Homo sapiens: one gene and its partners. The protein of the gene in region 1 purifies or fractionates together with the protein of each later gene. This does not show direct contact. Each region holds a gene or a part of one and is shown in the gene's direction. Other genes may lie near its edges. The genes, in order: OR7A5, GADL1, KIAA1549 and SLC25A42.

Region 1 (3,292 bases):
TTTCTTAGTGTAAAATAATAGAATTGTCAGGCCAAGCGAGGTGACTCATGCCTATAATTCCAGCACTTTGGGAGGCCCAGCTGGGAGGATCACATGAAGCCAAGAGTTTGAGACCAGCCTGGGCAACAAAACAAGACCCTGTCTCTACAAAGCATGAACAAAATTAGCTAGGTATGGTGACACATGCCTTTCGTCCCAGTCATTCAAGAAGCTGAGGCATGAGTATTATATAAGCCCAGAAATTTGAGGCTGCAGTGAGCTATGATTGCACCACTGCACTCCATCTTTAGCAAGAGAGTAAGACCCTATCTCAACAATGAATAAATAGAATACAACAGAATAGAATAGAATAGTCATGACGTGTGCAAAATTTAATATGTAATATGGTCTGGGCAGGCATTTTCATGTTGGACAAAGACCAGAAACAAGCTCATTGGATTTGTCAAAAAAGTGATCAAAATTCAAAGTCCACAAGTAGCAAAAAAAAAATAAAATAGGCCAGGCGCGGTGGCTCACGCCTGTAATCCCAGCACTTTGGGAGGCCGAGGCAGGCGGATCACGAGGTCAGGAGATCGAGACCATCCTGGCTAACATGGTGAAACCCCATCTCTACTAAAAATACAAAAATTAGCCGGGCACAGTGGCGGGCACCTGTAATGCCAGCTACTCAGGAGGCTGAGGCAGGAGAATGGCGTGAACCCGGGAGGCTGAGCTTGCAGTGAGCCAATATTGCACCATTGCACTCCAACCTGGGCGACAGAGCGAGACTCTGTCTCAAAAAAATAATAATAAAATAATAAAATAAAATAAAGGCCACACAGGAAATACAAGAAAAGTGAGAAAGGGACTGCTTCATCCACTCTCAATTCATATAAAAACCAATTGATCAAGTAAATATGGAATAGGCACAGAAAAAAATGAGTCTTTTACTGTTTCATATAAAAATGCCCAAATCTTGTCATTGTTTGTATGTTTCTTTTTGTGAATTGTTGGCTTATTCTCTTTGCTCCATTTTTCTATTAGGATATGCGATCTGTACCTTTGTTGCCAAAAAAGGTATCATTAGTTTTTGTCATGGGTAGCAGCTATCTGGGGCCGGCATCATGTAGGCAGTAAGAATTTACCAAGACAGTTGTAGATAAAGAAAGGCAAATTTAATTAGAGAAAGGATAATAATACATTGCAAGGGTGCAATGGGCAGGTTAGCAAGAAAGGAGCTGACTGCAAGGAGGCAAAGGCTTGCTGGGGATTTTATAGGATAGTGCTTGTGCTGCGAGCTGAAGAGGGCTTTGTGCGGTACTGATAATGCCAAGGTTGCAGTGAGCTAACTTGCATTTTTCCATCAGCTGAGGGTCAGGTGATAAGACGGGTGCAGGAAGATTGTGAGTCATTGGCACACGAGGGTTGTGTGTCCTGGACCATGAAGAAAGGCAGACTTAGAGCTTATCTATCTTCTCTTTTTGTTTTTCCCTGCTTCAGCCAGCCTGACTCCATTTCCCTAATTAGGACTCCACAGTCTTGTCTTTTGGATAACTTTATTTACTTATTTCTAGTTCCAAAAGGAAAGCTAAAACTTTAATAATCATTAAAACCGACATAATTAAATACTATTGTTAAATTAAAAACCATGAAGTCAATAAAGATGTCAGAATTCTTTATTTTTGATCTTTTATTTATTTTGCCAGGCATCGAGGAGATACAATGGAAGCTGAAATGTAACCATAACCAGGGTCGCTTTTATTTTCCATCCTATAAGATCCCCAGCAAGCCTTTGTCTCCTTGGAGTCAGTTCCTTTCTTGCTAACCTACCCGTTGCACCCTTGCAATGTATTTTTGTCCTTTTGCTGAGGGATTACCTGAGTTTATTAGACTTTTTCCTTACTGGGGTCTGTTTAATTTCTCTCACTCTGTTTATTGAACAGCTCTTTTATGTTTCTTTAAACACAGGGCTGAAAACAGTCATACCAAAATGGAAGTCCAAGTTTACATGTGTATACAGACTTGTGAACTGGAATTTCTTGTACCAATTCTACATTCTGTAGGGAAAAAAGAATCTGATATTAAAAGCTTTCCTTGAGCCAAATGCAGTAGCTCATGCCTGTAATTCCAGCACTTTGGGAGGCCAAAGTGGAAGGTTCACTTGAGGCCAGGAGTTCAAGACCAGCCTGGGCAACATAGGCAGACCTGGTCTCCACAAAAAATGTAGAAATCAGCCAAGGGTGGCGGCACATGGCTGTGGTCCCAACTACTTGGGAGGCTGAGGCAGGAGGATGGCTTGAGCCTGGGTGGTTGAAGCTGCAGTGAGCTATGATCACACCACTGCACTCCTGCCTGGGCCCTCTTCGGCCAGTGTGCTGCATGTGTATATGTGTGTGTGAGTGAGTGTGTGGCTGCATGTCTTTGGAGTGACAGCAGGTTTCAGAGCAAGAGGGACCTGGCCTCAATATATTTTATTATAAAGGAGACCAATGAAACAGAGGCCAGAACCCAAGACACCAGAAGGAAATAAAGAGGGGATGCATTTCAATTGATGTGACACCTTTCTAGTCCAGTTAATAAAGTGCAGGTGCAACAGCATCTAGACAGATGGACACTTTGTCCCTTGATGTTTTGACAGCCAGGTCCCCTTATTCTGCAACATCCTCTGACACCATGTCCCATCACTCTCCGTCTTACTGATTCCCTGGCCACACTGGCTTCTGTGTTGGACTTGAACATCTGAAAGAAGCACGTCCCAACCAGGTGCAGTGGCTCATGCCTATAATCCCAGCACTTTGGGAGGCCGAGGTGAGCGGATCACCTGAGGTTGGGAGTTCAAGACCAGCCTGACCAACATGGAGAAACCCCGTCTCTACTAAAAATACAAAATTAGCTGGGCGTGGTGGTGCATGCCTGTAATCCCAGCTACTCGGGAGGCTGAGGCAGGAGAATCGCTTGAACCTGGGAGGTGGAGGTTGCAGTGATCTGAGATTGCGCCACTGCGCTCCAGCCCGGCAACAGAGCGAGACTCTGTCTCAAAAAAGAAAACAAGAAAGAAGCACATCCCTCAAAGTTTTTGTACTGCCATTCCTCCTGCCAGGCACCCACTTCAACAGATAACTTCATGAATCTTGCCCTGTCTTCCTTGAGATCTTTTTTCAAACATCACCTTGTTTGCAGGTCTTGAATAATAATCAGCAAACAAACAAACAAAAAACAAAAGAAACACTTCATACCCTCCCTCCTTTTTACCTGCTTTGTTTATTTTCCAAGCGCCTGTTCCCATCTGACATATTATGTGATTGTTTAATTT
Region 2 (3,570 bases), on another chromosome or scaffold:
TTTAAGATGGATTTAAAATAGAAGATACTGTGTGAGGTACAGTGCTGAAAAGTACTTTAAAAATTGTTTCTGTCAATTTCAACAATTAAATGAACATATACATTATAAGGTGGAGAAACATACTGATTAGAAAAAGAGAATGTGATTGAATCAAAGCTTGTGCTGGAAATTGGTTGAATATCTGGATTGAGTTGCCAGAATTATTTTTGTGGAGGGCTATTTTGGGTAGGCAGTAACCTTTCTTCTCAGATATAGATTTTCATGTTGACTTTTAACATTTAGTCAATGATCGGCATGTACAGTCTTGAACATGTTCCGTCTCATCCTTTTGCCTGTGCTTAAGCTGCAAGGTTGAAAAGTTTAAAGGCATTTAATACAGGCTTAACAAATCATTGTGCTGCTTTCTTTCCTCTATCACTCTCTATGTAGAAAATGGCTGAAAAATTAGGGGCTCTCAGGGACAAAGCAGTATCTGTAATATAGAGGAACATTTAAACATAGAATTAAAACATACAATTAAGATTAGTGACAAGTTTATATCGCTGCTGCTTTTTAAGGAATGATTTGTTAAAAGGGAAAATATGGTATCCCTGACAAATTACGAGAGAGAGAGAGAGTGAGTGTGTGAGTGTGAGAGAGAGTGTGTGTGTGTGTGTGTGTGTGTGTGAAACAGACATGGGCTTATGTTTACGAAGATCTCTTTGTACATGTGTTTGAAAGGTGACTGCAAGAATGAGTAAAATAGGTTACATTTACATTTCTTGGTCTCCTCCACACTCCCTGATGCTAAACAAGATGCTGCAAGAATGAAAAATACAACTTTTGTGTAAACTTTGTAATCTAGTTCATAGAGAAATTGGCCAACAGCTACACGCACCTAAAGGAAGAGGGGACATACATTTGGAGAAACATATTCATGTGTGCTAGTTCAAGAAGGAAGCAGCTAGCTCTTTGCCTTTGAAGATTTCAATATTCACTTTGTTGAAGGTGACCAGGTGATCCCTCTTAGATACTTCGATAATTCAGATACATCCAATACAAGATGGATCTTCATAAAATTCAATTTGTTATTTCAATCTGGAAATGCATTATCTCTTCCTTGAGGAAAATAAATTGTGTAAGGACAGGTGCTATTTTCTTTATCTCTGCCCAAAGCTTCATCCTAGGGCTCAGAAATGCTAAAGGACTTTGTACAAGGAAATGAAGCTAAAAGCTTGCTACCTTAATTATAGGATTTGTCTACTCAATGCACCAGATTCTGAAAGTTAAAACCACTATTGTATGATATTGTATTATTTATATTTTAAGGGGATACTGACAGCATAGAGGTGGTGTTAATTCTAGATAAAATCTGAAGGGCTTTCTCCTCATCCTTTTCTCCAAATGCCTAACTCCTGTTCCTCCATCTCGAACTCTCCTGTGGTAGAGTGACGGCTGTCTCTGAGGAAAGGATTAGGGAAATCACTTAATCATTTGTGCATGTGTAGAAATGCCAATGAATATTTACTCTCTCCTAGGGGCAGTTGCTTTGTGAATCAGCATTCTAATTATGGAAAACATTTTTTTTCAACTTCAAACACCATCTAGCATGGGAATTGTATGTGAATGGTACCTTTCCCCATCAGACCTGAAATTGCACTGAATTAGGAGGTCATATACTCCATGACTAACTCAGCCCAGTACAGAGTGACATATATAATAAGGTAGATTTACTTAATCCATAAATTGTGAGCTTTCTTTGTAAAATTTTCCTTAACTATCATACCATGGTGTGTCATAAGAAATTGTCAGCTCAACACCTCAAATGATGCCTTCATGTATTAAAAGATGTGCCATCTGAAGCTGGGATAGTGATGCATTTTGTCCCGTGCTTTGTTATGTGGTGTAATTAGATTATCTCTCAAACACAATTTGTTTGCTTGCTTCCAGGAGATATTGATCAACAAGAGATGATTCCAAGTAAGAAGAATGCTGTTCTTGTGGATGGGGTTGTGCTGAATGGTCCTACAACAGATGCAAAAGCTGGAGAAAAATTTGTTGAAGAGGCCTGTAGGCTAATAATGGAAGAGGTGGTTTTGAAAGCTACAGATGTCAATGAGAAGGTAAAAATTAAAACCTGTAAGAAATTGCAGAAATGGGAAAGATAGATGTTCCCCAAATCAGTATGGCTGAATAGAAAGCAAATGGGAAGGCCAAGTTTTTATTTCTTCTATGCCTTTGTCTCAAAAGGATGTCCAGATATAAAAGTGTAGGCTGTCCTTCAGGCAATTCCTGCTGTCCTTGAAGGGTTGCCTCCTTACTCTGCCAGTCATCATTCGTGGGAAGATTGGCTGAGACCCTAGAGCTTAATCACATAAGGACATGAAGCACAGGGATGAAACTTCCTGCACCCTAGATAATAACATAGATAAGTAACCTGCTAATCTCACTTACGCAACTCTCTAATGCTCTTTGCTCCCCATTTTCTAGTGCACACTCTTCATGTTGTTCATGAAAATCAAGCAAAAGATGGAAAAGGATGTAAAAACATTTTAAATTTATCTTAAGGTCCTTATGAAGAGCTTGTCTAAATTTAGCCTAGAAATCTTAGGTGGTTAAGTCTGACTCCTTTCTGGTACCAATTATTGGTTGTAGATTTCAAATTCAGGCTCAAATTCAATTCAAATTGATATTAGAACCGCCGCTAATGACATCTACTCTTAAGAATACTTACTATGTTCTAAGGACTACTCCTTATGCATTTAATCCTTTCAAAAGCACTAAAAGGCAGATACTATTACCCCCATTTTAGAGCTGGGAAAGAAAGTCAGGCACAAAGAGGTCAAATATGTTGCCCAAGATTATACACAAGTATCAGAGCCGGGACTAAAATCCAGGCAGTATCACTTCACAATCTGCACTCTTAACTATTCCATATGCCTCTTAAAATTACCGAATCAACCTTTATCACATTGGTTTTCATGTTGGAGGTGGATTATCAACAAATGGATGTAAGGAAGAGATTTTTATTCCAGTTATATTAGTTAGAAATAAGTATCATTTTTAAAAGATTTTGAAAGTGAGGTGATATTTATTCTGAATTTTTGATCACATGCCTTTCGGAAAACTAGTAGGAAAATAGATTGATGCATGAATTTGGAAGTTATGTTCAAGGCAAAATCCTGATGGTGTTTGGTATTTGCCCAGATAGCATATTTATAATTATATAATTTCTGTTCTTCTCTGTACTTGTGAAATACTTTGGATCTGCTTTACATTGGAGTACACTGCTCCTCTGGCAGTTTTTTTTATTGGCCTTTATTCAGTCATTAAATATTAACTGAGTATTAGCTATGACTAAAGCTTTATATTCAGCCCTAGAGAATATAAAGAAAAACAATATAAAGGCCCAGCTCTGAACAGAATTTATAATCTAATTGGAAGGATATGTTTTCATTAGAAAAGGCAGCGGGGGGTCCCAGTAAGGATGTGATAAATGCTTTGAGACTGGAACAGATTTTTGGGATTTCACTCAGGAGCGAGTACTTTGAGCTCAGATGTGGAATGTAAGTAAAGGGCAAGTGAGAATTT
Region 3 (3,570 bases), on another chromosome or scaffold:
TCTTAAGTGATTAGCCATCCACAGTATAAAAACAAAGAATCATGCCCAGTTTCTTCACCTTATTCAGAGATAAGTTTTTAAAAAGTAATAGTTATTATGAAATAGATTGCTTTGTAGGGAATTTGGAAATTACTGAAAGGTACAGAAACCAGTCACCCATAATCTCACAGCCTGTAGGTAACACTAAGTAATTTTATCGTTTTTTTGTTGTTAACATTAAAAAAAGAATTATATGCACAATTGTATTTACTACCATTTCCACTCTACATTTAACTTAAGCATTTTTCCATTCATTAAGTCTTATTTGAAAACTATTTTCTATCCTAATGATTTATTCTTTTATTTCCATTTTTTGGGTTGCTGTAAGTAATGCTGATGAATAGCTACATAGAGAAGGCTCTGCTGGCCATGCGCGCTGGCTCACGCCTGTAATCCCAGCACTTTGGGAAGCCGAGGTGGGCGGATCACCTGAGGTCAGGAGTTTGAGACCATCCTGGCCAACATGGTGAAACCCCGTCTCTACTAAAAATACAGAGATTAGCTGGGTGTGGTGGCATGTGCCTGTAATCCCAGCTACTTGGGAGGCTGAGGCAGGAGAATTGCTCGAACCAGGGAGGCAGAGGTTGCAGTGAGCCGAGATGGCGCCATTGTACTCCAGCCTGGACGACAGAGCAAGACTCCGTCTCAAAAAAAAAAGGCTTTGTGCATGTTTCTTTCCGTGTGTGTGTGTGTGTGTGTGTGTGTGTGTTTTCTTGAGTATACATTTGTGGAAGGGGTATTAGAGTGTGATTAAAATGTAAGGCCCACCAGGCTGGATTTCTGCATCTTTTGTTCAAAATGCTGGGCCCCTAGTAGGTACTCAGTATGTGATTTTTGAATGAAGCAATTTTTGAAAGTTATAATGCTGACATAAGCCCTTGAAGCTTACGCAGGGGCCTTCCATTATCACTTGCATTGAGTATTCACTTCATCACTGGCATTGAATGTTACTTTAAAAGCCCTTGTTAAATAAATTTGTAATACATTGTTTTAACCTGCACGGTTTTATTGCTTTAGAATTGAATATTTTTTATTTTGTATTTGTATTCTGTGAATTTTCTCTGTATTTTTATTTATTTACCTGTTGTGGCATAGATATGTATTTAAATCTTTATGTATTAGAAGGATAGCAACCATTTTTCCTTCTATATGTTGCGTTTTCCCCTTCCAAAGGAATTTCTTTTAAATTTTACATAATTTTGAAATGTAGAAGTTTTTGGTTGTTTTGATTAGCAAGATCTGCCATTTGTTCTTTTAATAATTTTTTTATTGCATTTATGCTTATGGTGTGTGAAATTTTTTTCTTAATGTGCTGTTTTATTATTGGCCATTTCTAGGTGAATATTTATGCTTTGTGAGTCGTTTAGGATATTATAAACAAATACTTAAATGTTTCAAAAGTGTGGCCCCTAGGCCTCCTGCATCAACATCATTTGGGGATGTGGGGGTGCTTGTTAAGAATTTAGATGTCTACGACTCACCCTTAGCCTCTAAATTAGACTCTTTGGTGGCAGTGCCTGGGAATCTTCATTTTAACAAGTTGACAGCTCCGTTTTAGCCCCTGAGCATTGGAACCACTGATCCGGATATGGTAAACCCAGTAACTGAAAATTAACAGTATTTTGAAGATATAGTAGTCCCTCCTTATCTGCAAGGGATGTGGTCCAAGACCCCCAGTGGATGCCTGAAACTTTGGGTAGTACTGAAGTCTGTATATACCATGGTTTTTTCCTATATGTACATACCTGCAATAAAGTTTAATTAAAAAATGAGGCACAGTAAGAGATTAACAATAATAACAAAACAGAACAGTTCTAACAGTCTACTGTAATAAAACGTGAATATGCTGTATCTCAAAATACCTCAGAATATCTCAAAATATCTTCAAACTGCAGTTGTCCTCCGGTATCCGAAACCTTGGAGGAGGGGGACTACTGTATACCATTGGTATCTTGCAGTTGTCTTTTCACTGTTAGAACAGCTAATTTAAAATCGTTATGTTGAGGCCGGGCGCGGTGACTCACGCCTGTAATCCCAACACTTTGGGATCACCTGAGGTCAGGAGTTGGAGACCAGCCTGGCCAACATGGTGAAACCCGGTCTCTACTAAAAATACAGAAATTAGCCGGGTGTGGTGGCAGGTGCCTGTAATCCCAGCTACTTGGGAGGGTGAGGCAGGAGAATTGCTTGAACCCGGGAGGCAGAGGTTGCAATGAAATGAGATCGCGCCACTGCACTCCAGCCTGGGTGACAGAGCAAGACTCCATCTCAAAATAAAATAAGATAAAATAAGATAAGGTAAAATAAAATAAGCATTTTTTGTTACATGTTTTTGCTTGGTTTTGTTTGGGTTGGGAGTGAAAGGGTGCAGAGGACTGCATTTTCAATGCTCACTCCTGCCCGTTTGGGAACAGCTGCTGCAGTGCTTGTCAGGAAGTGCCTCACTTAATTCTGAAAACAGAACCCAGCCAGGGAGTTGTTACAAGTCACTAGGGACGTGGGAGCCACAGGTTTTCTATCAGTGCCCTGAATGATAGAGGCAGCTAATTACCGTCATTATAATTACACTAGGTTGATTTTCCCAGATAGGAAGACACTGTTCTAACTGATCTAATTTGTTTTCAAGTTGTGACCACCCACCTTTCATCTGGAGCTCACAATGATGTGATTTCTTTTTCTTGTTGTTAGGCAGCAGGATTTGTTAAAAGGTGAGTTAAAAAACCTGGGTGTGTGCAAATGCAAATCTGCCTGTAACTTTGTGACTATGGACAAGTTACCTTGTCCTGGGTTTCCTCCTCGGTGTAAGAAAGGGTTAATGAGATTAGCGCTAATCTCATTAACCCTCTAGCTCCTTGTAGCTCATTTCTCCCTGTAGCTCCTACATATCAAGTCAACATCTTGGATGTCTTGGAATGCACTTATAAGCAGCATCTGTCCTTTTTCTGTTAGGTTGTTTTGTCATTTCTCCTTGCCTGGTAGATGTTCTAGGCCCATGACCTGCTGAAGGCAGCTCACTCTCACCATTGCAGATGGCTCTTCTTTTTAAAAACTCCCTTTATTCTTCCCTCTTGCATCCACACACTCAAGACCCATACTTTGCTTTCTCTTATTCTTTCTCTTTGTCTCTTTCTTTTTTCCATCTCCTTTGTTAGCTTCAGGCAATTACTTCTCATTAGTGAAATTCTAATCTTGTGGTCCCCACACTCTGAGCATCATCACTGCCTCTTAGCTCGCATCATCACTGCCTCCACTGCCTCGTAGCTTGTTAGAAAATGCAGAATCTCAGGGCCCACCCCCGACCTTCTGAATCAGAATCTGCATTTGACAAGATCCCCCTGGTGATTTTGCATGCACAATTGAGGTTTGGGAAGCACTGGGCTAAGAGGTAAAGTGCCTTCTGTTCTAGCCTTCTGGGAATAGGTATTGTTGGAACATTGAAGGCTAAGTCAGCCTGGACTAACTCTGGAGCTATGTAAATCTCCAGAGACCTTGAGAGACACCTGCTTTTGGGACTGAGTCTGTGTAAATAGT
Region 4 (3,570 bases), 4.3 Mb from region 1:
ACTGAGGAGGCTGAGGTGGGAGGATCACCTGAGCCCAAGAGGTCATGGCTGCAGTGAGCTATGATCATGCACTTGCACTCCAGCCTGGTGGCAGAGTGGGATCCTATCTCAGAAAAACAACACAGAGTTGGCTTTGTAACGTTAAGAGCCTTGGCTGGGCCCGCTGGCTCTCGCCTGTAATCCCAACACTTTGGGATGCCGAGACAGGCGGATCACCTGAGCCTCAGGGGTTCGAGACCAGCCTGGGCAACGTGGAGAAACCCCATCTCTGCTAAAAATACAAAAATTAGCCAGGCAGGGTGGCGCGCAGCTGTAATCCCAGGTACTGGGAAGGCTGAGGCAGGACAAACAACCACTTGAACCCAGGAGGCAGAGGTTGCAGTGAGCCAAAATTGCGCCACCGCACTCCAGCCTGGTGGACAGAGCAAGACTGTCTCAAAAAACAAACAAAACGACAAACTGATAGGAGGTAACCACCGAATGGAGGAGGTGGAAGAACTCTGTCTCCAGCAGGGTGCAGGGAGGCACTCTCCATGGAATATTCCATTTGCACACAGAGGCCCATTCCAGAGGGGAGCAGCTGGTCCGACTGATTCAGAGAAGAAACTGGCCTGAAGCTGGTAAGGCCTTGGACTGCTGCTGGGACCACCAACAAGCGCCCGCAATTCTCAAAGCTCATGGAACCAGACGTCTGCAACCTGGCTGCATGTCCCAGAAAAGGCAGAGGTCCCCAAAGACAGCTTCCGAGAAGCTAGGAGAAGATCAAACTCCATGGCGAAGTTTGGCCTCAGAAACAAAATCGCTGTGCAATCTGTCCCTTTGAGGAAGGGAGGGCTGGGCTGGTGGAGGGGACCCTGGGAGCACTGAGGAAAAGGAGGCTGTGTTCTGTGGAACCAGACTGGGGGTGCAAGGCTGCTGGGTAGCCCAGGACATGTGGGAGAGGGTCTGAGAGCTGGCACCTTGCTGTTGTAAAGATAGGACTGGGAGACCAAAGAGGGCACCCTCTGCCTGAGCTCAGTCGGGCAGAGCTGGGATTCAGGCCAAGTGTGTGGACAGACTCAGGCCCAGCCCTTTACCCCGAGCCACACACTGAGCTGAGCAAACTCCAGAGGTGGGGGCAACCATGCTCAGTCTGACTCCGGTTGCCTGTTACACCTGAGTAGTGCGCCACATCCCTTCCCCATCTCCAGCCTCCACCATATCTATCCTGGGTTTCTGCAGGAGCCGCTTCTACCCTGGTCACATTTTTATTTTTATTTTTTATTTTTTCAGACACTCTGTCACCCTGTCTGGAGAATAGTGGTGCAATCACGGCTCACTGCAACCTTGGTATCCTGGGTTCAAGCGATTCTTCTGCCTCAGTTTTCTGAGTAACTAGGATTACAGGCACCCACCACCATGCCCGGCTAATTTTCGTATTTTTAGTAGAGATGGGGTTTCACCATGTTGGGCACGCTGGTCTCGAACTCCTGACCTCACGTGATCTGCCCGCCTCGGCCTCCCAAAGTGCTGAGATTATAGGCATGAGACACAGTGCCCAGCCCCACTCTGGTCATATTAAAAATAGCCCATTTCGGCCGGGCGCGGTGTCTCATGCTTGTAATCCCAGCACTTCAGAAGGCCGAGGCAGGCAGATCACTTGAGGCCAGGAATTCGAGACCAGCCTGGCCAACATGGCGAAACCTCATTTCTACTAAAAATACAAAAATTAGCCAGGCGTGGTGGTGCTTGCCTGTAATTCCAGCTACTCAGGAGGCTGAGGGAGGAGAATCGCTTGAACCCGAGAGGCAAAGTTTGCAGTGAGCTGAGATCACACCACTGTGTTCCAGCCTGGGCGACAGAGCAAGACTGTGCCTCAGAAAAAAAATAAAAATAACCCATTTATTTGGGCAAAGATCAGCCTCCTTGCCAGGCTTTGTAGGATCTAGCACCCACCTCTCTTTGCCATCTCCTTTCTCTTCTCTGGGCCCCCTCCCTTTCCCTGTGCCAGCAAATCTGCCCTCCTTGTGGTCCCCCAGGGTCCCCTGCTCCTTTTCACCCTAGCCTCTGAGTATTCATTCCTCCCCACCTAATACTATGACACACACCCCAAAGTGACCTGCACCTCATCCTTCAAGCTCAGCCTCTCACCTACCAACCCAGAGTTCTTACAGAACCCTGGGCCACCTCCTCGCGGCACCTTCCCAATGGGTGGCTGTATTTGCTTTCATCTGATGCTTCTGTTGGCATCTGGCTCTCTGTGTGGACCAGTGGCACCACGGGGACAGGAAGGGTCTTGTACACACCCCCACCCTGCACTGTGGGGCTCCAGGCCCTTCAGGATGCCCTTGCCTGGTGGGACTTCGCAGATTCCTGGGAGTCACTGAACAACCTGCCCTTCCACGTTACATTCAGACAGCAAAGCATTGCAGGCTGAGGCAGAAGAATGCTCTCCCCTGCTTCTCAATGAGTCCCATGGCCGAGTCCACTGGGGAAATGGAATCAGAGCACCTCCCATCCAGAACTTTCCAGAATGCTCTCTGCCACTTCTCAGTGAGAGTCCCGTGGCCGAGTCAGCAGGGGAAATGGAAACTCCAACCTGATGGGCAGGTGGTGCCTGTGGGATCCCACAGGGCTCGGACACACTGCTGTGCGGCGTGACCTTCCAGGGAAGGAGGGAGGGCTGTGGGGGAGCAGGGGACTTGGGCAGCTCCAGAGGACTGCAGAAAGCGATGGCTCTCAGGCTGGCATGGGAGCAGTCAACGCAGGTTGGCAGCCATCATCAGTGTCACTGTCACCCCCTCAACTGGGCTGGATGAAGAGTCATAGATGCCTACCTCTGGAGTCCTGATCGGAAGTTGTGGGAAGGGACACGCTGACACAGAGTCAGGGTCTGCTTGCCTGATACCCACTGCCAACCCCCTGACCCCAACGGTCCCTGGTGCCTGTTTTCAGTCCCTGTGTACCTACAATGCCACAGTGCCGTAGTCAGGTGCACACAGGCTGTGGAGGGAACTGAAGTTTGCACGTGGGCCAGTCCTATTGTGAGCCTGTCTCTGAGAATGTGAAACCTGCACACCTCACCTCCAAAGTGGATGGTACCTGTCATCTTGGGAGGTTTTCACTGTGTCCCCAGTAGGCTCTGTGGCCTGTGGACCCACCACAGATCACCCAGAACCAAGCAAGGCCAACATACTCAGGGTGGGGTACATCCCTCGGCCCCGGCCCAGAGGGTGTAAGGAAGGCACTTCTGGGGCAAGGTCCTCTGCGGAGCCGCCCCCCTGCCCTCTGACCTCTGATCACATGTTCTGTTGCAGCGTGACCACAGGCAAGTGCTCAGCTCCCTGCTGTCTGGGGCCCTGGCTGGTGCCCTTGCCAAAACAGCGGTAGCTCCCCTGGACCGAACCAAAATCATCTTCCAAGGTAAGTGTTGGCCATCCCCAGGTGCTAGAGAAGCTGCCAGGCGGTCACCTCCTCCTTCATGGCCCCCAAACCACGCTTCAAATTGGCTTTTATTTTTAGATTTATTTTAGAAATAAGGTTTTTTGTTGTTTTTTTTTTTTGAGACGGAGTCTCGCTCTGTCACCCAGG

What was found.
Region 2: the proteins of OR7A5 (region 1) and GADL1 purify together in Homo sapiens (affinity purification with mass spectrometry; one large-scale study listed by BioGRID and IntAct). This does not show direct contact.
Region 3: the proteins of OR7A5 (region 1) and KIAA1549 purify together in Homo sapiens (affinity purification with mass spectrometry; one large-scale study listed by BioGRID and IntAct). This does not show direct contact.
Region 4: the proteins of OR7A5 (region 1) and SLC25A42 purify together in Homo sapiens (affinity purification with mass spectrometry; one large-scale study listed by BioGRID and IntAct). This does not show direct contact.

Annotation. Positions count from the first base shown.
Region 1 is NC_000019.10:14,828,947-14,832,238, reverse strand, and holds part of OR7A5 (olfactory receptor 7A5), read left to right. Parts: intron 1-3,292.
Region 2 is NC_000003.12:30,860,125-30,863,694, reverse strand, and holds part of GADL1 (acidic amino acid decarboxylase GADL1), read left to right. Parts: intron 1-1,929; coding exon 1,930-2,102; intron 2,103-3,570. UniProt on the Homo sapiens protein: May catalyze the decarboxylation of L-aspartate, 3-sulfino-L-alanine (cysteine sulfinic acid), and L-cysteate to beta-alanine, hypotaurine and taurine, respectively. Does not exhibit any decarboxylation activity toward glutamate.
Region 3 is NC_000007.14:138,974,834-138,978,403, reverse strand, and holds part of KIAA1549 (UPF0606 protein KIAA1549), read left to right. Parts: intron 1-3,570. UniProt on the Homo sapiens protein: May play a role in photoreceptor function.
Region 4 is NC_000019.10:19,098,485-19,102,054, forward strand, and holds part of SLC25A42 (mitochondrial coenzyme A transporter SLC25A42), read left to right. Parts: intron 1-3,296; coding exon 3,297-3,402; intron 3,403-3,570. UniProt on the Homo sapiens protein: Mitochondrial carrier mediating the transport of coenzyme A (CoA) in mitochondria in exchange for intramitochondrial (deoxy)adenine nucleotides and adenosine 3',5'-diphosphate.